Regions from separate parts of the Homo sapiens genome. Here region 2 is linked to region 1. The links come from fine-mapping of genetic effects on gene expression. A gene starts in region 1. The other region holds a variant in brackets. All regions are shown on one strand. Distances are from middle to middle.

What was found. PIP is the estimated chance that this variant, and not a neighbour inherited with it, causes the effect. A credible set is the group of variants that fine-mapping cannot tell apart.
Region 2: its variant is the best candidate, but not a certain one, in a credible set for the expression of FOXP4 in lung (GTEx, PIP 0.77).

The regions. Positions count from the first base shown.
Region 1 is chr6:41,540,203-41,555,547 of GRCh38, reverse strand. It overlaps FOXP4 (forkhead box P4), which reads right to left and starts at 9,167. Exons shown (of 17, transcript NM_001012426.2): 1 at 8,681-9,167. FOXP4-AS1 (FOXP4 antisense RNA 1) reads left to right here and starts at 6,927. Exons shown (of 2, transcript NR_126415.1): 1 at 6,927-7,170. RefSeq lists enhancers at 1-62, 1-417, 9,371-9,480 and silencers at 7,851-8,000, 8,291-8,470, 8,541-9,220, 9,551-9,820, 10,863-11,157.
Region 2 is chr6:41,508,499-41,523,843 of GRCh38, reverse strand. LINC01276 (long intergenic non-protein coding RNA 1276) reads right to left here. Exons shown (of 3, transcript NR_120347.1): 3 at 3,992-4,468. Among named protein-coding and RNA genes, the nearest start is that of LINC01276, 14 kb to the right of the region's middle. The variant C/G (reference allele first, on the strand shown) is at 8,192.

The DNA.
Region 1 (15,345 bases):
TTGGGCACAGGAGGGGCTCTAGAGGGCCTGGGACAAACCACTGAGTATGGCCATTTCTGGGCCCCTGGCTGTTCTGCCCAGCCTGCCCCGACATGCCTTGGCCCCTCCCTTCATTTCCTCAGATGTAGGGGGCAAGTGATGACTTTATCATAGAGGGGCTCACCCTGGCAGGGATGCGCTGATTTCATCTTGAAACAGGCCCCCGGAGACACAAGGCCTTATGGTACAAAGACCTAACCTCTGTGGTAGAAAGAAGGCAAAAAGAATCACCCACAACCATCAGTTCTTTTTTTTTTTGAGACAGGGTCTCACTCTGTGTCGCTCAGACTGGAGTGCAGTAGCGCGATCTCGGCTCACTCACTGCAACCTTTCCTCCTTGGCTTAAGTGATCCTCTGGTCTCAGCCTCCCGAGTAGCTGGGACTACAGTCACATGCCACCACACCCTAATTTTTGTATTTTTTGTAGAGAGGGGGTTTCACCATATTGCCCAGGCTGGTCTCAAACTGAGCTCAACTGATCCTCCCACTTTGGCCTCCCAAGTGCTGGGATTACAGGCATGAGCCACTGCGCCCATCCCACCATCAGTTATTAAGTAGCTGTGTGGGAATTAGATTTGGGTCAGGGTGTCCTTATAGGTCCTCTCTCTGAGATCTTCTTGTACAGACCCTGCAGTCTTTTTTTTTTTTGGAGGCAGAGTCTCATTCTGTCGCCCAGGCTAGAGTGCAGTGGCACAATCTCGGCTCACTGCAACCTCCGCCTCCCGGGTTCAAGCAATTCTCCTGCCTCAGCCTCCTGAGTAGCTGGGACTACAGGTGCCTGCCACCACGCCCGGCTAACTTTTGTATTTTTAGTAGAGATGGGGTTTCGCCATGTTGGCCAGGATGGTCTTGAACCACTGACCTCAGGTGATTCACCTGCCTTGGCCTCCCAAAGTGCTGGGACTACAGGCATGAGCCACTGTGCCTGGCTAGACCCTGCAGAGTCCTTCAGACACTGTCCCACACTAGATTCTCCTTGAGGAATACTGGGGACAGGTGAATCTCCATGTCAAAGCTGCTAACCAAAATGCCTTCAGGGGCTAGGCTGGTCACTTAGGAGGCCAGGTGAGGAGGGCACGAGGAGGCAGCTGCCACTCAATCCCAGTCCATCCTTTCCACACAGAAATGCAGGCTCAGTGTTGACAGGGCTTGGGTTTTTCAAAAGGAGCAGAAGTGGGGATATTTATGTGAAATTTACCATTGTAATGAACTGTGTGTGGGTCAACAAAACTCAGCAGGGATGAAGTTAGTCCACTTGTGACCTCAGCCCTTATGGCCAGCATTTCAGAAAGGCAAGTTCCAGTTAACTGTGACTCGGGGCAAGTCAGGTAACCTCTCTGGGCCTGGGTACTTCACCTATCAAATGAGAGTGATAATTACCACTGCCTGGAGAATCTTTCAGGGTTGTTGTGGGGATAAGAACAAGGAGGTATGTGAAACGGCAAAGCACAGTTCCTCAGTCAGGGCCTGGTGACTACCTAGCTCTACCTGCCACAACAACCTCCCAGGTTTCCTAATAGGGATGTCCTATTAGAACTTCCTTCCCCCATCTTCCATGCAGGGGGCAGAGCAAGGGCTTCCAAGTGTCCTTGAAAATGCTGAGGGCTTGTTCCTGCAGATATCTGACCTGACTGTTGGGAGGCTTGGAGGTACCACACACCTATGCCCTCTGCCCTGTGTTTTAATGGATCAGTTCTGGCAGGGGCAGCAGCTTCTGAATGACAAAATCCTGAGGGTTAAAAGGTCCCTAGCTTGGTCCTTCTCTACCTCCTCTGTCCCCAACTAGGGTGCAGTCTGTTCCCAGCTCTTCCTCCCTCCCCTAGTCCTCCTAAGTTTCTCACCAGAAGCCCCTGGAGCACACAGGATCACGGCCAAATTCCCAAAGGGTGAGATTCTGTTTACTTAAGGAGAGATCAGACAGGGTCCAGGGGAGGGGAAGTCCTCCTGCCCCCACCTCTGAAAGGGCAAATCCCAGCCAGTACCCAGTCCATGGGTATCCATCCAAGCCAAACTGGGCAAAGGGGCACAGAGCAGTGGTTTTATTTTAGAAAATAAGTGCAATTAAAAGAAAGGCAGAAAAAAAGGAATGGGGGAGGAGAAGGCTGCCCTGGTGTGAGGGGGAGGGGGGATGGCGGCACACAAGGGCCAAGCTGAAGCTCGCCTCACCTCGCGGAGCTCTCTCTCCCAACGAGATTCAATTAATTGATAACATGAGGCATCAAATTAATTTCTGGAGAATGTGAGATTCTGATGAAGGGAAATCTCGTCGATGGGGATCGGGTGGGAGGGGGCAGGCAGCACCCCTTTTAATCAGGCTCCACTGCCTAATTGGGAAGGAGGAGACTTGCATGGGTCATAGTGTCCTCTGCCCCGAGCTCCACAGCACCCCTTTCAAGAAGGACCCATGGAAGTAGGCTCCCGATGCCCTTGGAACAAAGAGGGTGTACGTTGAGACCTTCAGGTCTCTTCTTGCCTGGCTCCCAACCCACAGCTTCAGGATGGTGAGCCCGAGGATGTGGGGCTGCAGGTGTCCTCTTCACCCACTGTACAGTTAGGAAAACTGAGGCCCAGAGAGAAGACGGGTCATGCCTAAGGCCGAAGAGTGAGTTAGGAAGTTGGCAGCAGTGGGCTTACCGGGGACCCTCATCATGTACCCGTGTGGGTACAGACTGTTTAGGCCTAGACCCACAAAATCATCTCTGAGCACAATCGGTGGGCAGCTTTCTCTGTGGCTAAACACTGCCATGCTGCCTGAGCCGTCCCCTCTTCCAGTGTTTCCGGATCCCCAGCTGCCGGCCCGAGCTAGCCCAGCTGCAGTTCTTTTCTCTGCGTCTGGTGAGTGCCGAAAACCCCTTGTGTTATATCCCTGTGCTCAGGTCTCAGACATGCAGGAGCTTCCAGCAACTGGAACTGATGCGCTCAGTTAAAAAGGTAAAAACTCACTGAGGGAACAATCCAAAGCGAGCGCTCAGCTGGGGAGGGGAAACAGGTAGCTCTGGCTCTCTGGGAAAGAAAGCTCAGAGGCTTCCTGAAGGAGGGATTCTCTCAGTGGACCAACTCTACACCCTCAGCATGGCCTGACCATCCAGCTTCTCCAGCTCCCATCCAGAGACGCAGCCTCAAAAAGCCTGGCGCTTTGCTCCCTGAGTGCTTACAGCCGCAGCCTCTCGCTGGGTCTCCCACAAATCCTGATGTTTCATATCTCCCCAAAACTCTCCCTAGTGTACCCCTTCCTTCCAGGATGCGGATGTGCATCTGCAGGGGAACCCCAAAGGAAAGGAGGAAGTACACCGCCACCCTCTTTTGAAGCAACTTCTTTAGGCCTGGGTCTCCATAGAAATGTTCTCCTAGAAACGTAAAGCCAGCCGGGAATGGAATCCAAGGAAGCCCCGCTGAGGAGATGAGAACGGAAGCTACCCCAACCTCCCACCCCCTGGTTTCATTTCACACGGGGAGGCCCTCCTAAGGGCTCTCTGGGTGGCACACATGTCCTGTCTCAGCTGGGGGTTTCAGGACCCACGCTGGCTCAGGTGGCCAGTGCCCACAGATCTGTGCTCCGGCCCTTGTTCTATTTCTGATTTTCCAAGTTGCATGTGAGCCACCCCTTCTCCGGGTCCCTCCTGCTGCCCTTCACCAGCCTGGCCTCCAGCACACAGTAGGCGCTCCACAGTGTGTTCGTAGGATGGATACAACTACTGAGTCCCTGGCTCCATTCCCTAAGCCACCCTACCTTCAAGTCGCCATCATTTTGCCACCCCTTTGCTGCTACTTGAGTAACTTCTGCTCCCACCAGTCCTGCCTACCTTGAACAAATGCCGGATGGTCTCTATTCTACATACTGTTAGTCTGAGGAAAACCCACTATGTCGCCCCATTTTCCATTTACATGGTAGCCTGGGTCACAGACCATCAGAACTGCAGCAGGAAAGGAAACACCATTTACCTCTATCTTGCACTATCAACTGGCTCCACCCACCATCAGGCCTGGCTGTGGAGGCTCCAGTTGGCCAGAGCATGGGGCCCAGGGAGGTGGGCAGAGCAGCTGGGATTCAGGGAACAGGCGGCTGTATGGCTACCATCCAGACAGGAGAGAAGGAAGGTGCAGGGCTGTGCCAGAGGGACAGCCGGGAAAAGACCCTGATCTCAAGAGGGATCCTGGGACCAGGATCAAGGCAAGGAGGGCATTCGCCAGGCCCAGGCATGTCCAGCCCGGGCGACACACCACAGCAACAGTGACTCCACGGTCCAACACCTGCGGCCCTGTCCAGATGTGTACCTTTTGTGCCAGGAGCTCTTGTTTTCTAGATCAGGCAGGTGTGCCCTGCGTCCAGGCTCTGCAAGGGCCCAGGAGCAACATCTCACAAGACCACAGCATCCAAAGTGGCAGAATTCAGAGGAAAGAGGGTTCCCGCTGTGATCCCGGCTTGGTGGAACTGGCAGTGGACTGAAGGTGTGTATTTCCACAGAGAATCCTGGGAGGCAACGCTGAAGGGAGCCAATAACTTCAGGCTCAAGGGGAGTTTCCTTTTGCTTCTTTGAGATGATCCATTCAGTGATAGGTCCCAAACTGGTCTGAGACTTGCTGCCAAAATCTTCCATAAGGACGTGTAGGCTAGGGTTTCCAAACCCTAGAAATCTCCCTTTCTGGAGAGAGGGGTTATCAGTCATTTTTCCTCCTCTGCATTCTGGGGAATTCTCTCTCCCATTTATGTGTGTCTCACAAGAACCTTAGGAGTGCCTGGGGAATGCTCCAGGGTTGTGTGCAGGTGGAAACACCAGATTCTGCACCTACAGTCCCCCTCTCCACTTAAAGGGAAAAGAGAAAGTATTCACACTAGAAGGCAGGCGGCCTAGGCCAAGCTTATGGAGGAAGGAGGGAGGAATGGCAGCTCCTCCCATCCCTTCCTTTCTCCCTTCACCACAGCACACGCTCAAGCCCTACTGGTTATACTGGGAGTCGAGGGCCCCATATTTTAGTTCCAGCTGTGCTACCATGTAGCTGTGTAACCTTGGACAAGTTGCCTCTTCTCTCTGGACTTCGTTTTCCCAACCCATAAAATGAAGATTAATACTTCAGTATTTCCATATTCAACCAACATGTGGCCTGGCAGTGCTAGCAAATTAATAATAAACGCCATCCCTTGATCAGTACTACCATGCACCCGGCACCGTGCAAGGTACTTGACATCTGCTCTCTCATCTAACTCCCAAACAGAATCTCTAAGGTGGGTATTATGACCTACTTTACAATGTAAGAAAATTGAGGTTCGAAGAGCTTAATTAAGTTCTCCAGAGTCCCATCTCTAATGCCAAGTTCCAAAGCCTTTTCCACTCTGACACATGTTCTGCCCTGGGGAGGCCTCAGTTCCTTGCTCTGGGTTCCAGAGTTCTGGAACCAAATCTGAGGAGGTCATTCCAGCCAACGGAGCCTGAGAGTCCTGTCAAAAATAGTACCTGCCCTGCCTTGGTCTAGGGAAGCTGGAGCGTGGTAAGATCTGTGAGAAGGGAAACTGTGAGGAGTTTCTTGGATGGAAGAAATTATTATTTCACACAGTTTAGGCTATTCAAAAAATAAAGACATTGTGCCTGCTTAGGATGGGACTGGGGGGCTTGCACTGTGGCTGGAGAGACAGGAAACCGCCAAGGCAGTGGGGTAGGAAGGGTTAAGATGCAGGGAAGGCTTCCTGGGGAGACAACCCTTCCCTCCCCTTGCACCTCACAACTCTCCTCTGAAACAGACACCCTGTTCCCATTCTTCTCCCCTCCACCCTCCCCCCCACCATGTGATATCTGTCTCTCCTACCCCAACAATCTGAGGTCCAGACAGCAGACCCCAGCCTTCACTGCTTGGGTACCCCAGTACTCAGCCTGGGACCTGCCCAGGCAGAGTAGGGGCTCAGCAAACATTTGGGGGAATTACTGGATCAAAAGCAAGCCTTCCTCTCCCAGTCCCTCTGCTTCCCTCCCACCAAGGAAGAGGTATGTTTGGGGTAGGGGCCCAGCAGGATATGCACATTCCTGGCAAGAAGGGACCTACCTGCCTACAGCCAGAACGGAAGTTTTCGGCTCTAAAGGCAGAGGAAGGGGGCTGGGGGCGTCTAGGTGTGAGGAAGATCCCTACACAGAAAGGGACAGGAGCAGGTCCCTTTGCAAGTGGGACCCTTTGCAAATGCTCTGGCCCTGGCGTTCTCCAGCACTGGGGTCAGGTCTTTCTCTCTCCAGGGCTCAGGGGTTCCCCAACTCCGTAACTCCTGGGAAACCTGTCCAGGACAGGGAGAAGGACAGAAAACTCCACCCAGGCGCCCAGCCCTTGGTGCCAGGAGAGAAGGCTCCCATGGTCTCCCAAACTTAGTAGCAAGGCTGGAGCCAGGATAAAGTGGGTCCTGAGGGTCCCGTCCCGCAGGAGAGATTCAGCGCTCACCCTGGCCCTGGGTGTGGAGGCTGAGAGGGGGCAACCACAAAACCACCTCTTCCCCTTGCCACCTTGCCCCACTGACTAGAGTGTGAGTGACTCCCCCAACTCACAGTTTTTTGAGTTTCAGATCGAAAGGGCACCATGGGAGCCAACAAGCTGTCCAGGTACCAAGAGCAGAGCCCCAGTATCCTCCCTCCAGCCACCAGGTAACAGAGCCCCAAAACCCCGAGGCAAAAGTTTCTCAAGTTGAAAAAAAAAAAAAAAAAAAAAGGCCTTCAGACTTCCCCACAGCGGTTTTCCGCGGGGGCGGGCAGAGGTTTTCTGAGGCCGTGGCTCCCCTTCAGGCGGCTGGGTCCACTGGGCCTGGCCTTCGGCCCCTGCACCTACCGGCTGGTTCGCAGCAGGGGGAGGGGGTGGGGGAGAGCTCAAAATGCCCGGTGCCCGCAGGGCATGGCGGTCAGGGGGCCCTTCAGCCCTGGTTTTCTGTGGAAAGTGAGCTTCTGGGTTCGACAGTGGGACCGGCACAGACCTTCCCGCAGCTACAGGCCATACGACAACCCCGCTGCTCTTTCTTTCTGCGGGCACTCGGGCCAGTCCTAACAATTGCCCCTCAAGCTGTGTGTGCTGCCCTAACCCTCAATCCCGAACCCGAAACAGTGCGTGCTGGGACGAATCTAGGCAGGTCTCCGAAACCGGGGTGAAGATGCTGAAGTTCAGGTAAAAACCCGCATTGGCCAAAATGCTCCCGGGCTTTCTCGGGAGTCACCCGAATGGCAACTTCAGGCTCGGGTTTGGTTCTCCGGACTCCCCACCCCTATTCCCGGCTCCAGGCGCCGCGGTCAACCTGCGGGGAGACTAGACGTTGGGGTGCCAGACACGCGGTGATCTCCAGACGCCCGAAACGCCAGGCGCCGAGTGAGCGAGGAAACCAGCCGGGAGGGGGCTGGCCAGGGAAGCCGGGGAGCAAAGGAAAGAGCGGGGCGCGCTCTGGGCTCAGGGTTCCCATACCCTTTCCCCCCAACCTAGGATCGGGGTGGGACGCAGGTGTGTTCACGAGATCGCCCCAGTTGGGGGACACAGGGAATCCGCCGCCGTCTGGGCCTGTCTCAAAATCCGCATTCCGCGAAATTACCCGGTCCTTTATGGGGGCGGCCGGGACCCCAGGTCGCATTCTAGCGCCACTGGCTGTGCTCTGACGCAGCCCAAGGAAGTTTGTTTGGCGTGGATGAGGAGCCCGAGGCTGAAGCGCCGCCGGTCAGAGAGGTGCTGGGGTTGTCCAGGGGAGATACCAGACTCCTCAGTTGGGGCGGGGGGGGGTCCTGCTCGGTCACTCCGGGCTCCTTCCCTGGTGGCCTCCGGGCCCCCGTGGCCGCCCTCTCTTCCCCCCTTAAGTGGTGAAGCGGGAGCTCTCTCCACAGCGGGTGAGTAGAGGTGTCAGCCAGATCGTTTCCCCACCCTCCACCTCCGGCGCACAAATCACAGGGGCCATTTCCAGACGCTCTCAAGTCCCCAAGAAGTTTTCCGCTCTATCCCCGAGCTGACCGAGCGATGGAAAAGGGGCTGACTGGCCCTGGCACTTCCGAGGTGCGACCTCAGCAAGACAAGTCCCCTCTTCACCAGAGACGACACGGCGGGTAGGACCGCGATCCCCCGCTCTCTTGCCCCCATTTTCATCTGTCTCCGGCGCGTCCTGGGGAGTCCGGTACCGACTAGAGTTGGGGGGAGCCACTTCCCTTCCCAGCTCTGGAAAGTCTGGGCCGGGAAGTATTCTTTGTCTGACTCGGGGCGGGGAGGGGGTCGCGCCCCCGTACACCCCATTCCCAGAGGCCCGGCGGGGAGGGGGCGGGGCCCAGATTCTTGGGGAAGGGCGGGCCTCGGTGGCCTCTCCGGCCGCCCCCCTCCCCGCCCCGGCCTCCGGCTGCCCCCACTCCCGCCGCGCCACAGCCCCCACCTGTTCCCGAGGCAGCTCCGGCCCGCTGGGGCCCGGGCCAGGGGCGGAATGTCGCGGCTGCGCGGGGTCAGTGCGCCACGGCCGGCCCTGGCTGGAACAAAGTGCGCCGGCCCGGGCCCGGCTCCTCCTGGCGCCCGGCGCCCAGCGCGTCTCGGGCGGGCAGTTTGCAAACACAAAGTGAGCCAGCGAGCGGGCGAGAGAGTGCGCGAGCGAGGGAGTTGGTCTGGTCGCCCGCCCAGCCCCCACCCACGTCCCTGGGCCCGACCCGCCACCTACCTGTCCCGCCCGGCCGCTCCGTGCGGGCTCCGGCCCGTCAGCCCGCGCGGGGCATGGGGCTCGCTCCGGTCGCAGCCCGGGCCCGCCGCCGCCCGCCGGGGCTGCCCTTCCGCGCCGCCCCGCGTCGCGCAGCTCCCGGGCGTCCTCCCAGCGCGCCGGGCCGACCGCCGCGCGCCTCAACCCCGCCGGGGCATGGCACTTTGTGGGCTGCTTGGCTCGCTCCGGCTCCGCTCTTCCTTCCCGGTCCTTCCGCGACGCTCGTCAGCTCGCTCCGGCTCCCGGGCTCCCGGACCCCGGCGTCCCCGCCCCCGGCCCAGCCCTGGTTCCGGCCCGGGCTCCTCCCCGCCGCGCCGCCGCCGCCTGCGCCGCGCCCTCCTCGCGGGCTGGGGGCTCCGTCCCGGCCGCCGGCCGCCGGCCGCACTGTCCGGTCCGCAGGGACGGCGGGCTCCGGACTCCGAGGGGCTGCGACTGAGCCTGGGCTGCGAGTGGCTGCGAGCGGGCGGCGCGCGGGCGGGGCGGGAGGGGGCGGGGGAGGAGGAGGGTGGAGAGGGAAGGAGGGAGCGCGCGGAGAGCGAGGGAGGAGGGAGCGAGAGAGCAAGCGGCGGAGGGAGGGGAGACCAACTTCTAGTGCTACCATAATTCGCCTAAAGCAGGTGCAGCAACTTTCACCCCGCCTGGCAGCCCGCTGAGAGCGAGAGAAAACCACGTGCACCAAACTTTAGGGGAGGAAAAATGGGAACGTGGGGAGAAGACGTGAGGCGGCAGATCTGAAAAAGATGGTAGGTGGAGGGACCCCAGGGATTCACCCTGGCCTCGGACTAATCCTATGGGGCGCTTGCAAACCCCGGCCATCCCCTGGAGTCTGAAGGTACGGCCAAGTCCTGATCCCACACGGTTCACTGGTTCCCGGCGGGCTGCGCTCGGCGCGGGGAGTGGCCGGGGGCCCAGAGACGGAGCCAGTGTCAGGCCCGGGCCCTGTCTGGCCTCCCTCCTGCTCCCCACTGCGTGGGGGCTGGGGGTGGGCTTCCTGAGCCGAGGGTAGAAGGTGGGGAGGCCCCTTCAGGGCTTTGTGAACGGTCACCCCCTGGCGCGCACTGCCTCCCTCTGCGGAAAGGGAATTTCCCGTAAAGTGCTCTGCGAACCAGTGAAGAAGGGGCCCAAGGCCAGAGCCATGCGGGCAAAGTGAAGTGCAAAGTTGAGGCAATTATCCGGACAAATTAGATTGTAAACAAAACCCCGCGTCTCTGAACATCGCTTTTGCCCAGGGGGACTGGAGGGATTGTGGTGGTGGCGGCGATGGTGTGTTTGGGTTGGGAGGGGGAGGTCTGGGTGAGGAAATGCCCACGGCCCAAGGGGGAGGGCTGTGTTGTTAGCAGACGCACCACTCAGAGTCCCGTGGAAATCTCAATACCCGTCCCCCTCCCCGCCCCACACACGCCGGAAACATCTCCCATCTGTCTGCATGTGTTGGGGGTGGGGAGAAGTGAAGGAGGCCTCAGGGGTCCTCATGAAGTACCCCAACCCAGCTCAGTGATGCCGGGTCCCCATGACCAAGGGAGGATCCTGTTGTGGGATCAGGACAAGAAGACAGTGGCTCTTGAAGCCTCTCCTGGCCCTAAATCCTCAGGCAGGTGGACAAGAGGCTGGCATAGTATGTGAGCCCCTGTGGAGTGGGAGCTGGAAGCCTGAGGTGTGGGGTCGGAGCTGCAAGGATTGATGCTTAGTTGCCTGGGGGGAGGGGATTTCTTGGCCGTTCCAGTGGTCCTTGAAAGAAAAGGGGACCTCAGAGAGGAGGCACCCTCTTGGGTTGTTTTTCATCACTTCTGTCCCTTTTCTGCAATGTTAGTGACACCTGCACAGGTCCACATTTTATGTATTTGCCTTTTTGGGCAGGTGGGACAGGCATACTTAGGTCCTGCTGGAGCGTTTTAGATTTCTAGGTGTGAAATTGTGCAGGGAAGACTCTAAGTGCCATTTATGTGGATATCTCAGTGTCCTTTCCAGTGTGGCAACTGAGATAACCATAGCCATAAGAATAAAATAACAGCTAACATCTGAGTCGTACCACCCACCAGCCATTTAATCTTCACAGTAACCCCAGGAGGGAGATATTTGTATTATCTCCATTTTATAGAAGAGGAAACTGAGGCACAAAGAGATCAAGTAACTTGCCCAGGCTTACACAGCTGCTGGTCAGTGATGAGCCAGATTCCAACTAGAGCCACTTCAGTGAGGACAAGAAAGAAGCTCATGGTGGTCTCTGAAGCGACACTGCCTGCTTGTGGGTTAGCTGAGGGGAAGGATATTCTGGGAGAAAGAAAGCCCTTGGTAGTACTATCTGATTTACCTTCTGTTGAGGCCCAGCTCTGGTGGAAATCATGGTGTGTGGACAGCCCTAGGCCAAGCCTGGAGTGGCAAGTCCTTGTGTCAGACCAGCTGGGCCAGTGACTATGTCCTCAGTTCTCCTTCCTATCCTTCTTGCAGCAAAGGCTGAGGGTGGGGTGAGAACTAGGGGCTTTGGAGACAAAAGAGAGAATTTCTGTAGGGGGGTATTGAATGAGGTGACCTCCGAGGGGCTTCTCCAGCCCTTTTCTGGCTGGTTCACTGAATGTTTTTCCCATCCCCTTCCTGCAGCAGCCCTTGTACCTTACACATGGGCTCACTTGCCCAGAGGGATTGCCCTGGGAAATGCTTCACTTTCAGTTCAGTTTACCCCTCATCTCCAGGCCAGTTCAGTTCCCAGCTCCCTGTGAGCTACAGTGGGGGCTCAAGGCATCAAAAGACCCTGTCTTGTCTTCACCTAAAGGGCATTTTAGCGAGGAAGACAAAGCCTCCCCAAAGAAAGATACAGAACAAATGCCCCGAAATCAAAGAAGCCAGTCCAAAGCCCTTCTTCCTGGTGCAAGAGCTTCGTTAAGAAGGTTGAAAAGAGTAGCCCTTGGCTCCAAAGTGGGAGTGACCGGGAGCAGGCAGGAGGGTCCTCTTTCTGTCCTTGTTCCTTCACAGGACTCAGGGCAGGTGCAGGTGCTTTGGCGGTGGCCGGAACCAAGGCTCATGGCTTGGCCCCTCCAGGGGGGCCATAGTTAAGAGCACAGGGGCTAGAGTCAGGCAGCCTTGGGTTGAACTTCAGCGTCTGTCACTTAACCAGTGTGTGACCCAGGCAAGTTACATGATGTTTGAGTCTCAGTTAACTCACTCATCACCTCACTCATCAATTGGGAGGTTGGGAGGCCTCCTTGGGTGTTTGGGAGGGAGGATGGGCAAAACTTCTAGCCTGGTAATGTGTTCCTCACATGCTTTCCATAATTACTTATTTTCCCCTTGATGAGCTCCAGGGTCCTCACTTAAAATGACGAATGCTGACCTCACAAAACTGCAAATCATGAGTTGCCACTTATTAAATGCTTGCCAGGCAGTCGAATAACGTGCTGTTCAGCTTATCACCCCAGCAATGGTGACTCTTCTGCAGGTGAAGCTAAGAGAGGTCAAATGACTTGCTCAGTTCACATAGCTAGGAAGTAGTGTGGCGAGGACTTGCTCCCAGGTCTCCTGCTTTGAAGCAGACGCCCTTTCCCAAGGTCAGCCGCCACCCTATTGTGGAGGTGAAGTGGGCTGATGGATGAGCTTGTTCCTAGCAGCAGGCCTGATACTCAGGAGTAGGTTGGGGTGGTAGTGGTGTGTACATCTAGAAACATTTGCTTCATTCCCATGGTCCCAACAAACCTAAGCCCAGACAGTTTATGTTTCTATTATTATTATTATTATTGAGACAGAGTCTCACTCTGTTGTCCAGGCTGGAGTGCAATGGCACAATCTCAGCTCACTGCAACCTCCGCCTTCTGAGTTGAAGCAATTCTCCTGCCTCAGCCTCCCGAGTAGCTGGGACTACAGGCTCATGCCACCATGCCCTGCTAATTTTTGTATTTTTAGTAGAGATGGGGTTTTGCCATATTGGCCAGGCTGGTCTCGAACTCCTGACCTCAAGTGATCTGCCCGCCTTGGCCTCCCAAAGTACTGGGATTACAGGCATGAGCCACTACACCTGGCCAAAAACTATTTTTTAGTTATTGAGGAATAAAACTTCATCAGCATAGGCCAGGTGTGGTGGCTCACGCCTGTAATCCCAGCACTTTGGGAGGCCGAGGCAGGTGGGTGGATTACCTGAGGTTGGGAGTTTGAGACCAGCCTGACCAACATGGAGAAACCCCATCTCTACTAAAAATACAAAATTAGCCAGGTGTGGTGGCACATGCCTGTAATCCCAGCTACTCAGGAGGCTGAGGCAGGAGAATCGCTTGAACATGGGAGGTGGAGCTTGCAGTGAGCTGAGATCGTGCCATTGCACTCTAGCCTGGGCAACAAGAGCGAAACTCTGTCTCAAAAAACAAAAAACAAAAATAAAACCCACTTTATCAGCATAATACAGTAACTCCACTCCACTCCACTCCTAAGTATATGCCAATAAAAATGCATATGTACATATGTTCACCAAAAGGCATACACCAGAATGCTAGGCCATCTACTCGCATGTGCTCACTATTCACAACAGCTGTCAACAATGGAATAGGTGACTAAACCACGGTCTTCTCATCCGTGGGCTAGTCCTTGGCAATGAGAATGAGCAAACCATTGCCACGAGCAACAACATGGAGGAATCTCACAAATCCAACGTTGAGCATAAAAGCCAGACACGAAAGAAAACACCGTTTGATTCCATTGATAGGAAATTCAAAACCCAATCCAATGAATTGATGGCATTAAAACTCAGGAGCATGGCTGTTTTAGGTGGGGGTGTGACGGAGGGGCACAAGGGGATTTCTGGGGGTCTTTTTGAATTTGGGAGTTGGTTACATGCATGTGTTCACTTTGTAAACATTAATTGAGCTATACATTTTATGCTTAAAAGTGAAACATGTAAAAATCATTGCTAATATAGGCCTTTCTGTGACTCTCCTTCTTTCCCATTCTCCATCCTTCCCTTGTGGTTTTCTGAAGTTGGCCTTCCCAAGTAAGTTTTCTACTCTTACTCCTTTGGTATTGCTTGGGTATCTCAAAATTTTCTTTTGTTTTAGTTATTTATTTTTATTCACTTTTGGGGCATAGTAAAGTATGAAGCAATTAAAATTTTAAATGAAAGGTAGCCTGCTCCTTGTTTTTACTTGTGTTTTGCTGAACTTCATGCTGCCGAGATGAATGTCTACATGTTTGTTGCATGTGTTGTGTGTGTCTCTAGGTCACTTACTTAAGAGGCTGCTGGAGAGGATTCTACCATATCAGTGTGTCCCATCTTGTTTTGTTACCCAGCCTCCCACTGATGGGGCAGTTCGATTGTAGTGGATATTTGGGTATTATGGTCTCCTTGCTGCAGTAGGCTTCCTTCTGTGACCTCCCTCCCCACTGTGCCTCTCCTTCCCCCTGTGGTTCTTCTGCTCCATAATCTTTTCCCTTTCCCATCTCCCCACTGTTCCTCCATTCCCTGCTTCCCAATCTTTCTGACTGGGAAAGACCTAGGATCTGTGCCGATTGGAGGTGAGGGAGGGATAGGAGAGGGACAGCCTTTTCCTTTTCCACAAAGGCTCCTCTTCCCCAAGATCAATGATGATTTAAAGAAAGAAATATTTCATTAGGGGTTGACATCTTAATGAACCGTGCCAGGAACCTTCAAGGCACTCTCTAGGCTTCCTCGGTTTTAAGCGGGGCTCCTACCTCTGGGGGAGGCTTATCAGTTTACCATATTGCCCCAAGTAGATGACCATGGTAGTGTGGGTAGCTGTGCCAGGGGCTGTGGAGGAGAGGGCCCCCAGGACTGGGGCGAGGCTGGCTTGTCCTTCTAGGTGCCAGGCTGACCGGGTGCCTGGGCCCTTGGAGGTATTTGGAGTTCCTTCTGGGACGTTTAGGGAGTCAGAGACTCAGGCCTTGTCCAAAAGGTGGTGGGCATGGGACTTTGGGCTGATTGGTGGAAAATCAGTCATTAAAGATCAGGAAATAAGCGATAGCTTGACAAGCAGTGAGCAATTTCCCACTAGTTGGAACACAGCATCTTTAGGTCAAATGAGATCCCTACATGGAGGGATTTCTGTGCAGGAAGAGAGCAGGACACACAGAGAGGGGCCAAGAGAGCAGACCCAGTGCCTTATCCCTCCCCCATGCACCCCACCCATGGGGGTGGGGATGGGGTGGAGGATGCATGAGGGTAGCAGAAGCCCCAGGAGTGGGCACAGAGAAAAGAATTCCTTTTTCCTTCATTTAGTTCTTCCTCATCTTTTTTTTTTTTTTTTTTTTTGGACACGGAGCTTCCGCGTTGTTGCCCAGGCTGGCGTGCAGAGGTGCAATCACAGCTCACTGTGATCAACCTCCTGGGCTCAACTGATCCTCCCACTTCAGCCTTCCGATTAACTGTGACCACAGGTGTGAGCTACCATGCCCGGGTAGAGAAGGGGTCTCTGTGTTGCGCAGGTTCGTCTCAAACTCCTGGACTCAAATAATTCTCCTGCCTCAGCCTCCCAAAGTGCTGGGATTGCAGGTGCAAGCCACCTCGTCCGGCCCTTCCTTATCTTTTAAGAGCTATCCCACATTTTCCATCCACTTGAAGACTTTTGGATTTAAGTCTCAATTCTGTCACTTTTCTAGCCCCAAATCCTGAAGCAAGGGGCTTAACCTTAGTT
Region 2 (15,345 bases), 32 kb after region 1:
TGACTCCCCAACTCTTGCCAGGGTCTCCCCAGGGTGGGGAGAGTGGAAGTGTGGCTGCTAGACCTGAAAGGTCTAGCTGCCAGCCTCCTTCAGGGCAGGTGGGGACAAGGGTCAGCGTGTTGCCCCTCTGATAGGGTCTGGGGATGATGCAGGGGATGGAGGAGGCTTGGATATTTATTCACCTTTCACATGTAAGTGCTTTGTTTTGCCAACGAGTGCTCCAGCTCTTTGCAGAGGGGGCTGCTGCCCCATCGCGGGTCCCCCTTTAGTGCCTAGTACAGTGCAGGGCAGGTGATGAGTGCTCTAAGGCAATGTGTTAAACAAAGGAATGAGTGCATGTGTAGGGGTGTTCTCCCGGGGTGAATGTCAGTGGAGAGACATTGCATTCCCTGTTCAGGGCGTGGCCAGCTCAGGTGGAGATGCTCCTGTCTGTGGCCCAGTTCCTGCTTGGCCACCCAGGACCCCAGCTCCCCAGAGGGGTCCCTCTGGACCCCACGCCCCTAATCTTGCCGCTTGGCCACCCACCTCCATGGCCTGGGTGCTGCCACGGCCACCGCCTTCATACTCACCTCCGAGTGGTTGGAGAACCTCGAAGTGTCTCGCTGCCAGAGTACCAGTGACAGCCACAGAAATCATGAGTTTCCGTGAATGGGGGATGCGGAGTTTTCTTGTATTCTATCCAGAGAGAGCTGTCCTTCAGAGGGGAATTTAGTGTAATTACCCTTAAGGGAGCGATCCTTACACAGTCAGTCACAACACTGACCTCCTGGCTGAGATTTGACAGCAAAATTGCAGGCTGTGTACTCAACAGAAGGGGCATCCTCCTTTTTTGGGTGTTGAGGGGGGAGGCGGGAAGGAAGGAGGAGGAGGGAAAGGAGACTCAGAGGCTTTGAAAAGAAAAGTGCTGGCTTACAGCTGCCAGGCAAGCGGGTTCTCCTTGGCAAGGCGTCTACAGGGCAAGGAGAAGGTGTCCAGAGATCCCCTGGAACTTCACCTGGCTCATGAAGAGGGGCCAAGGTAGGCACTCCAGCCCTTCAGATCTTTGAGCTCTGGTTTGTGATCTTAGCTAAAGTTAATCTTATTGTAAGAAGGATTTGGAGGGTACTAGGCACTATTTGATGAACTTCTCAGGCATGTTTTCCCAAACATATCTGTCCTCGGTCCCTCCCCGGTGCTAGAAGTTCCACTGTTCCTTTTACCTTTAAGTTGACAGATCCAAGACCCTGTAAACCTGCATCTGGGTTACCTGGAAGGACTAATGTGTTAATCTGTGACCACTCCAAATTTAGCATGGATGCATCTCTCAGATGTGCTGGCCCATCACATGACTGAAGCCAAAGGACACAGGGGTCAGGCAAATTTCCGTGAAGGATTGGAAAAAATCTGTTGTATGGGTAGATCTTGATGGACTGTGAAGCCTGGCAAGGAATGGAGGTAAATCCCCAAATCTCAAAGCTGGAAGGGATCCCAGAAGCCAACGGGTCCAAACTTCGCAGAGAAGGAGTCCCCACCTCTCTGTTCTACCTCTACCCAAAACTCAGGGCTGGGCGCGGTGACTCACGCCTGTAATCCCAGCACTTTGGGAGGCCAAGGCAGGCAGATCACCTGAGGTTAGGAGTTTGAGACCAGCCTGGCCAACATGGCAAAACCCCGTCTCTACTAAAAATACAAAAATTAGCCAGGCATGGTGGCACGCGCCTGTAATCCCAGCTACTTGAGAGGCTGAGACAGAAGAATCACTTGAACCTGGGAGGTGGAGGTTGCAGTGAGCCAAGATAGTGCCATTGCACTCCAGCCTGGGTGACAAGAGTGAAATTCTGTCTCAAAACAAAAAACAAACAAAAAACAAAACAAAACAAAAAACAACTCAGCCACCTCTGCCCACACAATTCCTAATAGCACGAGCTAGCTGTCTCTATAGAGGTCCATCCTGCTGTTAAATAGCCCGGACCATTGCCAAATTCCTCCTGAGTGCAAATGAAAATCTGTGTCCGTGAAACTTCTTCCTTCCTTTTGGAGCCCCTTTGGAACAAATCTAGGCTTTCTCTGGCGGGACAGCCCTTCAGCTACGTGGGGACCATGCTCAGCTATTAGTCGTCTTCTCCTCCAAGTCTGGGACCCAGTAGACTCATCACCATCTGGCTCATCCTTTCAGGAAAGTGCCCAAAAGGAGTCTGAAAGGGCACAGGACAGCCCAAAATGCAAATCCAATGTTTATTGAGCATCTGCTATGTTCCAGGCAGAAACACCCACCATATCTCTTTTCTTTTTTTTCTTTTTTTGGAGACGGAGTCTCGCTCTGTCACCCAGGCTGGAGTGCAGTGGCACGATCTCAGCTCACTGCAGCCTCCACCTCCCAGGTTCAAACAATTCTCCTGCCTCAGCCTCCCAAATAGCTGGGACTACAGGCTCATGCCGCCATGCTCAGCTAATTTTTTGTATTTTAGTAGAGATGGGATTTCACTGTGTTGCCCAGGCTGGTCTCAAACTCCTGAGCTTAGGCAACCCGCCCGCCTCGGCCTCCCAAAGTGCTGGGATTACAGGTGTGCACCACTGCGCCTGGCCCCATATCTCTTTTCATCCTCTCAACCAATTCAATGAAGGGAGGATATATTATTCCCATTTTACCGTAGAGAAAAGAAGGACGCAAGAAGCTTCAAATCACTTGCCCCAAATCACCTGCCAGCAAGGGGCAGAGCCAGAACTGGGAGCCCAGACTCCTGACCCAGGCCAAAGACTTTCCTTGAGAATCCAGCTGCGTTGGTCCCTACACCCCTTGGCCACCACTGGGTTTGGGGAATGAGCTCTGCCATCATTCTCCTGTCTCTCTACCTCCATGATGCTTTTCTGCAGGGCCTTTCTCTCCACTTGGCAGGGAGAAGGAATTCCAGGGAAAACCCAGCTTAAGTCCTGCATCCTCCCTGAAGGCTTCCCTGCCCATCCCAGGCCTCAGTAACTGCTTCAGTATAATGACAACATTGGACGTTATTTACTGACCACAGGACTATGCTTCAGCACCTACCCTAAGGTATTTTATTCAATCCTCCAGGCTTTTGCCCTGGCTGAGGGTTCTGCCTGAGCTTCTCTCCCCTCAGATACCTGCATCTCCTTGAAGGACCACCTTCTCTGGGAGGTCCAACCTAACCATCCTTTCCCAGGTCTTTGTACCCGCTTTATTTCTTTCTATAGCTCATGTCACCTTCCGAAGAGTATTTAATTTACTGATTATTGTGCTCATTGCCTATCTTCCTCCTCTTTAAGTTCCAAAAGGACAGAGGCTGTATTTTGTTTACTGTTGCATCCCAAGCACCTAGAACAGTGCCTGACATACGGTAGGTGTACAAGCGATATCTGTCAAATGACAGGAGGAAAACTCAAAACCCTTTGAGGCAGGTGTGTTGTTTTCACAGCAGAGAGGAACTAGGGCTCTAGTTCTGGGTTAGGTGGCTTGTCCAAGGTCACAGAGCTGGCCATACCCAGCTGTGTATTGGGCTGCTGAGTATGAGGCTGTTTGGGGTGGGCCTTGAGCCTGAGCCTGTTCTGAGCTTTGTGTGTGTGTGTGTGTGTGTGTGTGTGTGTGTTTGGTGGCTTCCTAGGGGATTTCTGCCTGCATTCCAACCAGCAGGTCCTTCCAGGCACCCCTCCCCTCCTTTACAGGGCTTCTTCCCTTCCTGCAGCTCCTTTCAGCCCCTGCTTTCTTGCCCCAAGCCTGGAGAGGCCTGTGAGTGCAGTCCAGCTAACTTCCCTCCCCTGAGCTCATGGGTCCCTGCCTGGGCTGAAGTCCACACCGGGAGCCCAAGGTGCCCCTGGAAGGCCCCCACCCTGGCCTCCGAGTGGTTCCTCTCCCCAGAGATGTAAATCCGGGCCCCAGAGTGGCCACACAGAACATACATCTTAAACAAACACTTCTCCTTGCTGTTTATCTCCCTGGCCTTTAAACAAACTCTTTCAAAGGTTTCTGCTGATAGGAGAGATTTACTGAAAACCATTCCTTGCTTAAAAGCCCTGGGTTTATGCTGCTGGGGTGGGGGCAGTGGGGCCTTCAGGCCTGGGGTTTCTCTGCCTCCGGACCACATGTTTATCCTCCAGGCCTTGATAGAGGAGCAACACAGACTAATCTTTATGGAAAAGAAAATAATAAAAGCAGGAAAGGGGAGGGGTGGAGGCTGGGGTGCGTTTGGTTCTTGTCACTGACTCCAAGAGGTTGTGGCAGGTCCGGGTGTGGCAGTGCCCACCACACTGTAGCCCTGCCTGTTGGGGGTGGGGTGAGCTGAGCATCTGGGAGGGGTGGGGCTCCCTTGAACTTTGGACAGAAGGCCTTTGGGCAGGTGAGCCTCTTCTCCGGCTTCCAGAGGCCAGAGTGGGCCTCTCCCTGCTGGATGGGGGTTGGAGGGAGGGCAGCAGTCACATGATCATGTCTATTCCTGCATCAACCAACAGTCAGAAGGCACCTAGCCTGTGCCAGGACCTGGGGGTGGAGAGAGGAATAGTTGTTAACAATTACTTTAGCATTTCTGTGGGCCTGGTACTGTTCTAAATCGCTTACATGAATCAACTCATTTAATGGCCCCAGTAGATTCTATAATTATCCCAATTTTGCATATGGGGAAACCAAGTCACAGAAAGATTACTGGCTGTACTCCAGAGGTTTTGGTTTAACTGGGATGCAGGCTGGGCATTGGATTCCAGGATGCATCCCAAGTGGAAAAAGATTGACATTCCCATTTCCCACCCACTCCCCACTTGTCCTTCCAATAATACAGTATCTCTTCCATTTCAAGGCGTCTCACAATTCATTGACAGTGGTATTTTTTTCTTAGTGGATCGTAAAATAATGGTGCATCTTACAGTCTTAGGTTCAACAAAATATAGTAATAGAAAACTAACCTCTACCAACTGTGGGGACTGAGCTGGATGATTTGCATCCATTATCTCATTTAATCCACCTCCCAAAGCTGCAACATAGGTCACAGGAGCACCTCTGATGAGAAAACTGAGGCACCAAGAATTCAATAACCTGCCCAAGATCACCCAGCTGGTGGGAGGTGGAGGCAGGATTTGAACCCACAGTTAAATGGCCTAATATTTATCCCCAACCCTTATAGAGCACCTTATATGATTCAAACTGTCTTCCGACCTGTTTTGTCCATTGAGGAAGACGCTGAAATCCAGAAAGTTTAAGTGACCTGCTCTAAGTTACACATCTGACTTCTCAACCTATAACTGTGGGAGAACCATGGGAAGTGGGTTTCGTTGTTATTATTGTTGTTTGCTTGTCTTAAGCCTACCTGGGCTTTTATAGCTAGAAGCCACTCCTAAGAGAACATGACCAGGAAAGTGGGCCAGGGCCAGGGCAGGGGCCCCTGAGAGTATGGGCCATCCTGGGGTCTTGGGTGCTGAAGGTTGGAGCCAAGGCCTGTCGTGGGACCTCCCAAGGGCAGAGGACTTGAGCAGGGGCAGATGTCATTGCAAAGACTCCACTGACTTCCGTCTCTGTTTTGTTTGTGAAGCGAAGTTGCTGCAGTGGCAGGTGGGGAGGCAGCAGAAGGCCAGGTAGGAATTTCCAGTCCTTCCCTGGGCCCATAGCTCAGGCCGGAAGCCACTCCCTTCCTCCATGTTTACATGCAGCGGGCCACACCCCTTCAGATGGCACAGACTGACACCCCCTTCCGGTCCCCCTGCTCCAGGCCAAATACTTTTTCACTCACGTTAAAGCACCTTTCAGCACCTGGGCCCTGAGCTGGGGAGCATTTCCAGGGAGGAAAGAAGGGAGAGGGTATGAGGAGGAGGCTGGGGGTGGGTTGAGGGAAGGTGAGGAGCTGGGGGTAGTGGAGACTAGGATGAAGTTATGTGAGTGATTGTCTTGCACCCATCATCTTTCTTTTTGTATTATTCTTTCCTTATATAGTGACATCCAGTTTCCAAAACCTTTCCTTCCTCCTAGCAACTCTTACCCTAAGATACTTAATTCACACCAAGGTAAACACGACTAATAACAGCTTCCAAAGTGATCCTTTCAAGGGCATTTTGGCAGTGGCCTCTTTATTTGTTCATTCATTCTTTGATTTCCTCAACAATTTCCTTTGGCATTCCTGGAGACCCTCCATCCTATCTCGAAGGCTTAGCTGGGACACCTCTAAGCTGTTTGGTGGGCTGCTGTCCAAACTCTGGGCTTTGTGGGTAGTGGCATCCACACCCTCTGACAGCATGTAGGTATATTGGCAGCAACCCAAGCTGTCTTTTTTGCACCTTCAATGGAAGGAAAGGCAATTTCTCCTCATGAAAAAAGTTTGGGAGACTTTACCTAAATGTAAAGGGAGGTGCTTTAATGATATATCTCCAGGAATCAAACCCATCAGTCCATCTGAGTTTGGTCATGGGCTGAGCTCCCCAGGGCAGCTGGGCAGGAGCCCTTCCAGGACATCAGAACTTGGGGTAGAATTTCCACCCCACTGGCCCTCAGGGCTCTGCATAGATTTCTCTCTCTGTCCTTCTTGGTAGGGAAGTGGCTGATCATGAGGAAGACCCTGAGCTCAGAGCTGGAAGATATCCAGGGACCCATCCACCCAGTAGTTTGCAGAGGACAAAATGACTCAAAAGTATACCGAAATCCAAAATATAAAACAGCTAAGAGTTAAAGCTCCAGTTGAAGGCAAAGGTCTAGACCCTGCCTCCTCTGCTCTCCCACTTGGCCCATAAGTGGTCCAAAGCTTCTCTGTGGACCTCCAAAGCTCAGGAGAACACGAATAGAATCCACTGAGCCAGTCTAGTGATCCATTTTATAGACAAAGAAACTGAGTCAGAGCATGATGGGATGGATGTGAGTCCTTAGGGGCCTCCACCCTTCCATGATCACTTCTGGCTCATGTTCATTCCCTGGACTCATAATGTACCCTTCTTTCTAACTTGACCTGCACAATTCTACGGACTCTTCAGGCTCAGCTCAAATGTCACCCTCCACCATGGAGCGTTCCTCAATTCTCTCCTCCAGTTCTGGCCCTACTCCCACCCAGTTCGGTGTTCCTGGAGCTCACTGCTTTTGCATCTCTCTTAAGTTCAACCTCTCATTTCTGCCCATTTGAAGCAGCTCTTTTCTCCCTTGTCAGGCTGTTGGTCTCCTTGAGGTCAGGAGGTTTTTAAAAAATCCCAAGCCTCCAGCCCATGAGTAGGTGTGCAATCACAGTGAGGCTGCTGACATGTTTTCTTGGGTGATGGTGAGATGCTTTGCCCACTGGGGTCAGGGTCTCCCTACTGGACGGCCCTAGTTCTCATCAATTTGGTGGGGAGGGCATAGAGTTTGATTAAACAGTTACTTGGATACCTGAAGTAGGGCAGGGAAGGGGATACAGAACCTTCAGAGCCTGGGGAGGAGGGACCCTTCTGCTCTAAATTGTCCACTCGCTCCATCCTCAAGAAGATGGAGAGCAGAAACAGGGGCAGGGGAAGAGAGCTGGGCCCCGCACACTTCCCACCATCACTGATTTCCCTCTTCTCTGGCATTTTAAGAGCTCAGACTCAAACCCTTCAAGGGCTTTTGAAACAATTAGATTTGAAAGTGCCCAGTGCTTGGTCTAATTGCTTAAAAGCCACTTCAGGCTTCAACTGACCCAGAGTAAAGCCTGGGGGGTGGGTAGAGGGGAGGGGAGACCCGAGACACTCTGTCGCCCTGTTTCCCAGGCCTTCCTGGACAACCAAGGCCTAGGTGAGTGGTGATGCCAAATAAGGGCCTTCAACTTTTCCCGGGGGGGCAGAGCCACCATACTCTTCCTGCCCCTTTCCCAGCCCTTGCCCCCAGGGAACCGCTCACATCTAACCTTTCTCTAAGATACCTTCTCACGCAAATTCCAGCATTCCTAGGGGTGATTGGAGCACTTATGTCCAGAACCAATTTTCAGTGTCAAAAAGTGGACTGAGCCAGTGTAAAGAGGCCGAGAAGTATCAGGAGACAAGCCTTGGTGTGTCCAACTCAAGATGATGCTTTGCTTCTGGGATATTCTGAGATTGGGGATTTTGCAATCTCTAAGTCAGTTCCATCTCTCCATGCTTTCGTGATTACTCTTCTCCCAAGTTCTTTTTTTTTTTTTTTTGAGACAGAGTCTTGCTCTGTCACCCAGGCTGGAGTGCAGTGGCGCGATCTCGGCTCACTGCAAGCTCCGCCTCCCAGGTTCACACCATTCTCCTGCCTCAGCCT[C/G]CCGAGTAGCTGGGACTACAGGCACCCGCCACCAGGCCCAGCTAATTTTTTTGTATTTTTAGTAGAGACGGGGTTTCACCATGTTAGCCAGGATGGTCTCGATCTCCTGACCTTGTGATCTGCCCGTCTTGGCCTCCCAAAGTGCTGGGATTACAGGTGTGAGCCACCGCACCCGGCTCCCAAGTTCTTTAAAAAATATATCTATATCTATATATATATATATATATATATATATATAAAATATATTATATATATATATATTATATATATATATTTTATTTTGTTTGAGACGGGGTCTCGCTCTGTCATCCAGGCTGGAGAGCAGTGGCATGATTATGGCACACTGCAACCTTGACCTCCCAGGTTCAATTGATCCTCCTGCCTGAGCCTCCCCAGTAGCTGGGACTACAGGAGTGTGCCATCACATCCAGCTAATTTTTAAATTTTTCATAGAGATGGGGTCTCACTGTATTGCTCAGGCTGGTCTCAAACTCCTAGCCTCAAGTGATTCTCCTGTGTTGGCTTCCCAAAGTGCTGGGATTATAGGCATGAGCCACCGTGCCCAGCTTTAAATACAGTTGCAGCGTAAAATTCTTCTCTTTGGCTTAAGACCTTGCAATGGCTCCATGTTAGATAGGAGCCATTTCAATGTTAAGTTACAGAGAAGCTCCCCCAGCCTTCCAGCCCCTCTGTAATTTGCTCCCACCTCACCTTTCCAGCTCCATCTGCCCTGCGTGCCCTTGGCTCCAGCCCACTGTGGTGCCTTTTCACAGGCCATGCTCTTGGCCTCCATTCCTTCACCATCTGAATGAAGTCATCTGTTTATGTGCCCAGCAACAGGCCAAGCAGAGGGGATACTGAGATAAATGAGCCACGGTCCCTGCTCTTGGGGGGACACATTCTAGCTGGGACATGAAAACATAAACAGATGATTCCTTTGCCAAATTCTTCTTGAGCACCTCTATGTGCCAGACCTGAGGACACTGAGGTGGACAAAACAGATAAAGTCCCCACTCTTGTGGAGCTTAGATGGTTGAAGGAGAAACAGACAGAAACACATAAGCAAAGAGATATGCAGTCTGTCATGGGGAGATGAATGTGTGAAGTAAAACAAAGTAGGGGGGAAGAGAAGGACCTTGGAGGTGAGGATATTTGAGCAGAAATCTGAGTAAAGGGAAGGAACTGCTTGTGCAATGGTCCTGAGGCAGCAGTGCCTTTGGGTTTAACGAGGAGCAAGGAAAGAGACCAGTGTGTCTGGGGAAGAGTGAGTGAGGGAAGGAAGAAGGGAGAAGAGTAGAGGGAGCAGGGGGCAAATCATGAATGATACTATAGCCCCGCCAGGCCTTCGGATCCTATAGTGAGATGAGAGCCACTGGGGATATTGAGCAGGGGGTGAGGTCAGTAAACACATGTCTTTTTTTTTTTGAGAAGGAGTTTTGCTCTTGTTGCCCAGGCTGGAGTGCAATGGCGCAATCTTGGCTCACTGCAACCTCCGCCTCCCGGGTTCAAGCGATTCTCCTTCCTCAGCCTCCTGAGTAGCTGGGATTACAGACACGTGCCACCACACCCGGCTAATTTTGTATCTTTAGTAGAGACGGGGTTTCGCCATGTTGGTCAGGCTCATCTGGAACTCCTGACCTCAGGTGATCTGCCCGCCTCGGCCTCCCAAAGTGCTGGGATTACAAGCGTGAGCCACTGCGCCCAGCCCAAACACATGTCTTAAAAGGCTCACTTTGGCTGCTGGTGGAGGACAGCCTAGAGGAAGGGGCAAGAGTGGAAGCAGGGAGAGTAGTTAGGGAGCCACTGCAATAGTTCAAGCAAGAGATGGCAATGGTCAGGGTATTAAGAAGTGGTTAAATTAGTGATAGTTATAATAGAGTGTAGATACTAGTATGAGAGCACAAGCCGGGGACTCCCTGCCAGACCTGGAGGCGGGAGTGGGCTGTTGACAAGAAAGGATTGCTGCAGGTTTGACCATGAAGCCAAATCTTCAAGAAGAAGGAATTCGTAGAGACAGGAGGTGAGAAAGTGGGGCAGAGGAGCAGCACACACTGCAGTGTGTACTTCATGTCTTGCAGGGACCTGGGGGCAGTGTAGATAGGCCAGAGCATCATTTAGGGGCAGGGAGTAGGGCAGGCTGAGGCTGGAGGGCTTGAGAGGGGCTGGACACCAACGTCAATGGCCAAGTTGAATTTGGGTCTTCTGTGTGCAGCAGGGAGCCACGGAAGAGTGTTAAGCATGGCTGCATCATGATCCAGTTTGTGTTCAACAAAGATCACTGGCTGTGGAGGGGTGGGCAAAGGACTGGGGCCTGGAGGACCAGTTAGGAAGCTGTTGTGGTGACCTGGTGATAGATGAGAGTGGCCTGGACTACAGGGGCTGTGATGGGGCTTGGAGAACTGTTTAGAAAGGAAAGTTGCCAGGATGTTCAGATGTTGGCTGATCAGGCAAAGAGATTAGAAAGCAGAAGGAAGAAAGAGTGACCCACCTCCAGCTCCAGTGCCTGTAGACAAGGGGCCCTAAACTTAGGGCCCTCCTTTGGCCCTCCTCACAGGGTAGGAGTCTGTTCAGAAGGAGGGAGCCACCCCCACTCCTGAACCATGCTCCAGATGCCCAGGGCCCTAGAAATCCCTGCCCTAAGGGCCTGTACCCTGCATCCAAGACCTCTGCAGGCCACCTCCCCAGGTTCAACCTCCAGAGGGTAGCCTGTGTCTTGGCTGTGAGTTGAGTGTGGGGCATGCAGTCAGCAGCTGTGTGTGCGGATTGGAGTATCTACACACATGCTCGAAGCCCTAGTTTAAGGTGAAGGTGGGGATGGGAAGGGAAGAGGCAGGCTGAGGGCAGGGCTGGGGGAGAGCAGAGGGAGTTTCTCCCCACTCCGTGTCCCTGTGTAGAACTCCAAGAAACCTGAGAACTCTAAATTCAAATCCAGCCTTCCAGATCTTTAGAAGGTGTATGAATAGAACATATTTTATTAAACAGTTTGTTAACTTGATTTTTAACTTTTAAATATTTAGACATATGGAATGTGGGTCTCCATTTGTACTTTTGCTTGGTCTAAGAGGGGTGAGTGGAAAACTCCCAAGGGCCAGGATTATGTCTTATTTGTCTTGTTCACCCTCCCCCATCCCCCCAACCTTGGACCCCTGGACCTTGGTAATTTCCATCGAACTGGAAAAAGAATGAGATCCCAGCCTGATAGTGAGACATACAGATTTGACAAGACCCCAGTAGGCAAAAGAAAGGTTGGTCAGGCAACTGACTGCAGAGGGCTTTGGAGGTGTGGCCAGTGGCTGGCGAGGAAGCTGACCCAGTGTCCAGGGGGTTAAGAGCAGGCAGACCACCTGGGTTCAAAGCCCAGTTCTGCTCTTTAGGACTGTGTGGCCCCAGCAGGTTGCTAGCTCCTGGTGCATCAGCCGCCTTCTTCTAAGACAGGGTAACGATAATAATCCCTAATGGCCCCAACCGTCTAGTTTACCGGGGGAAGATGTAGTGTTTGGCATGTAGTGAGTTCTATGAAAGTTTGTTATCATGTGAAATGACCCCTTGGAAGGAACTCTTAAGCCCAGCTAAGGGGCAGCTCCTGGCAAATCAGAGAAGGAGACGTTGGTTTTGGTGCCAGACTTTTCTCCTCCCACTTTCAAGATTCCCCATAGCAGATGGGGGCTCAGTGACTAGGCTGTTCCCCCTCCTCTACCAGGGCTGTCTGTGGCCTGGGGTAACTCCCTCTATTCTCTGTGTCTTCAAGCTCCACCAGCTCCATCCTCTTGTTCCCTGGGGACTTTGCCAAGCAACGCACTTGCTAATCCTGGAGGACCTCATTCACAGGAAGATAGTGGGCCCAGTGCTGTGTTGAGTGTCCCAACTGGTTATCTCATTCAATCCTTTTTTTTTTCCGTCAGGGAAGTTGAGACAAATTGTTCACTTCTTTTAATAATCCTCTGAGCACTGTTCCAGATATTCTTATCCCTATTTCCCAGAGGAGACCAGAGCAGAGAGAGGTTAAGTATTTCAGTATTTCTCAGCCGCAGAGCTTGGACTAGAATCCAAGACTGTGTGGCTCCAGAGCCCACTCTTGACTTCGATAAGTCCTGCCTTAGTCAGAACTAGTGGGATACTCCTGCTTAGGAAAGAGGTGGGACTTTCTGGAGCCAAGGCCGTGTCCCACAGGAGGCACTCTGATGGGACGGTAGACACTGAGGCAGGCTGATGGTGGGTTGATGTTCTGGTTTGTTGGGGAGAGGAAGTTCTTTTGGTTTCCTTCAGATTATTGCTAAGGGCCTTCCAGGCAACCAACCAACCAACCAACCAACCAACCCATCAACCCTTTCTTTTCAAGGGACATGACTATGGGTGGGTCTGAAAAGACAGGTGCTTTGTGTGTTGAAAATCCTGAGGCAGAGAGCTCTGTTTGGCAGTGAGTGTTCCAGACAGAGGAGATTCTATAGAGACAAGGAACTCCCCCTTCCACACTCCAGCCCTGTCTCAACCCTACAGCCTGTCCCTACCTGGGTGCTGTGGAGGCAAGTTGATAACATGGACCCTCCGAAAGCTGCCAGCCTTGGGGATCAAATGCCTGTGAAATAACACGCAGGCATCACATGTTTGTTGAGTGGAGACAGAGATGCCACGTCCTGGTCCTTGCTCTCTAGAGCTTCCAGTCTCCTAGCAGGATGGGCATATACACTGGGGAAACTATCCCATGGAAAGAGCATCGGGGAGCCTGGCCCTGTGGCCCTGACGAGAACTCTGTGTGACTTGGACAAGTCACTCACCCTCTCTGATCTTGGTTTCTCACCTGTGAAATGAGAAAGTTAGAATTGATCACTGGGTTAAACCTTGTTTTTCCTCTTAAAATTAGCTGTAATGAAATCCAACACAGAACTCTGCTATAAAAAGTAGAGCCACTCTGCTTGTGAGAGGCGGGAGCCAACCTTCTCTGGTTTCTTCCTCTTCCTTCAGGATGATCCCCAAGGGCGGCTCTCAGTGTCTTTCACTGAAGGCATGACCCTCATGGAGCAGCTCAGGAATGGCCTCACGAGGCAGTCCCCGAGGGCTTGAAGGCTAGAAGGATTTTGATGAGTGAAGGTGTGGGGAGGGCACACCGGGCAGGAGGTGCTGTTTGAGAAAAGATGCAGACAGGGAAGAGCCAGCCTGGCTGGGGGTGGGAAGTGCTGGAGGAGAGGGAGTGCAAAGAACCCAAGAAAGAGCCCTAAGGGGATGCCCATGGGAACTTCACCAAGGGGAAAAATGATATCTTCAACTGGGAACTCAAGTCCAGGCCCCCTTCCTACAGAGATGGGTGGGGTGTATACTCTGCTGTGAGGGGAGGGAAAGAACCAGCATCAAGGAAACGATACAGTGTCCACTTTGGAGGTTGCTTTAATGGTGAAATTAGTGAAGCTAGCTAAAGCCTCAGGACAGAAGGAATGCTACATAGGCATTTGTTAAATACGGTCATACCAGAGTGGACCCTGAGGTTGCCAAAGGTCTGCATCCCTCCTGGCCTTGGGCCCAGTGCTGGTGGTGATAGCTTAGAATTTCAGCAGCTTCTATGCTCAACAGTTACAGTGATTATGAGATGTGTGTGTACGTGTGTGTTGGGGGCATGTGGCTGCAGGTGTCTTTCAGCCACCTTCTAACATGCATGCTAGTGCACACACACACACACACACACACCCTCTCTTAGTCTTTTCTCTGGAGCTGGTGCACTCCTCACCACCCCCACCCCTTCATCCTCCATATCCCCACCCCATCCCCTTTGCTTCAAGTCCATACCTTGCTCAGCCTTCTTCCTCCCCTCTCTCTGAGTCCCTGGTCCTCCCACCCACCATAAATCTGTAACTCGGGAGTGTGTGTGTAGCGGGGAGGGGGTGGAAAAGCAGCAAACCAAACCAACCCCAGCTAATGAAAACGGCGATAAATCTCTGTCTATCAGGTTTGTTGTGAGCACAAACATTGCCAAACAAGGGCCCAGATGGCCTGCAGGCCCTCCTCCCTACGGTCTGCAGAGCTTTAAATGGAAATGGTTGCTTTATACATCTATTTACTACTTGGAAATGGGGAATGACTGAGACCAGGGGTGCCTGGCCAGGAAATGGGGTGCAGACCAGGTGTGAGTTCTCTGCCCTCCCTGCCTGAGCAGGACTGCTGTCTAGTCCCCAGCCTTCACCATTCCTGTTCCTGGTGAGCTCTCTCTGACATAGGTCATTGGGCTGGAGTGGGGAAGAGGCTACCTTGCTGGCTGACATTCTGGTCTCCACAGCCTGGCCTCAACCTGCTCCAACACACACTCCTGGCTAGCTGGACCCAACTCCTCACTGTTGTTTTTAAAGTTCTTCATGTTTTGCCTAGAAGCTTTCCCTGTTTTCCATACGGCCTGCCCTGGATGGGTAGAAGTGGAAGCCTACCTGGTCTTTCAAGGCCAAGCCAAACCCCACCTCCTCCAGGAAGTCTCCCCATCCCTAGTCCTCTCTGGGCTCCATTCCTGTAGCATCAGCCACGGACAGCCTAGGCAGTCTTTACAAGACAACTGCTTTGGAGGTGGACAGGTCTGGGCACACAGCCAGGCTTTACCACTTAGCTAAGGGACCTTGACAGGTTAATCTCTCAGCCTCAGTTTCTTACTCTATGTAATAGGTATAATTATGATGCCTACTTCTCACCTGCCAAATAAAAATAAATAAATGAAGCAAGTGTCGAACGTGCTTAGCAAAGTGAGGAGCACAGTCTTAGAGCTTTGGACGTGTCAGCCTTTATTATTGGTGCCATCCAGTCATGACTGGGAATGATTCTTCTCTGTGCCTCATCTTTTCACAGAGATGTGCGCGTGTGTGTGTGTGTGTGTGTGTATGTGTATGTGTGCACGCGTGTCTCTGCATGTCCTAGTTTGGTTTCTCCTGAAATCAGACCCTGAGACAAGAACTTGGGTGCAGGTAGTTTACTGAGGAGGTGATCCCTGGAGGCTGGAGGGAGGGAAAGGGGAAGTGAGATAGGGATGGGTTAGGAGAAAAGCCAGTGAAGAGTGGTTAATGATCGAGTTTCATTGTGGGCAATGGGGGCCCACTGAGGAACTGTGAGAACACACCATGGAATTGTCCCACGGAGTTCCAAGGCAGCCAGGTTGCTTATCCACCCATTCTTATCTCTTATTA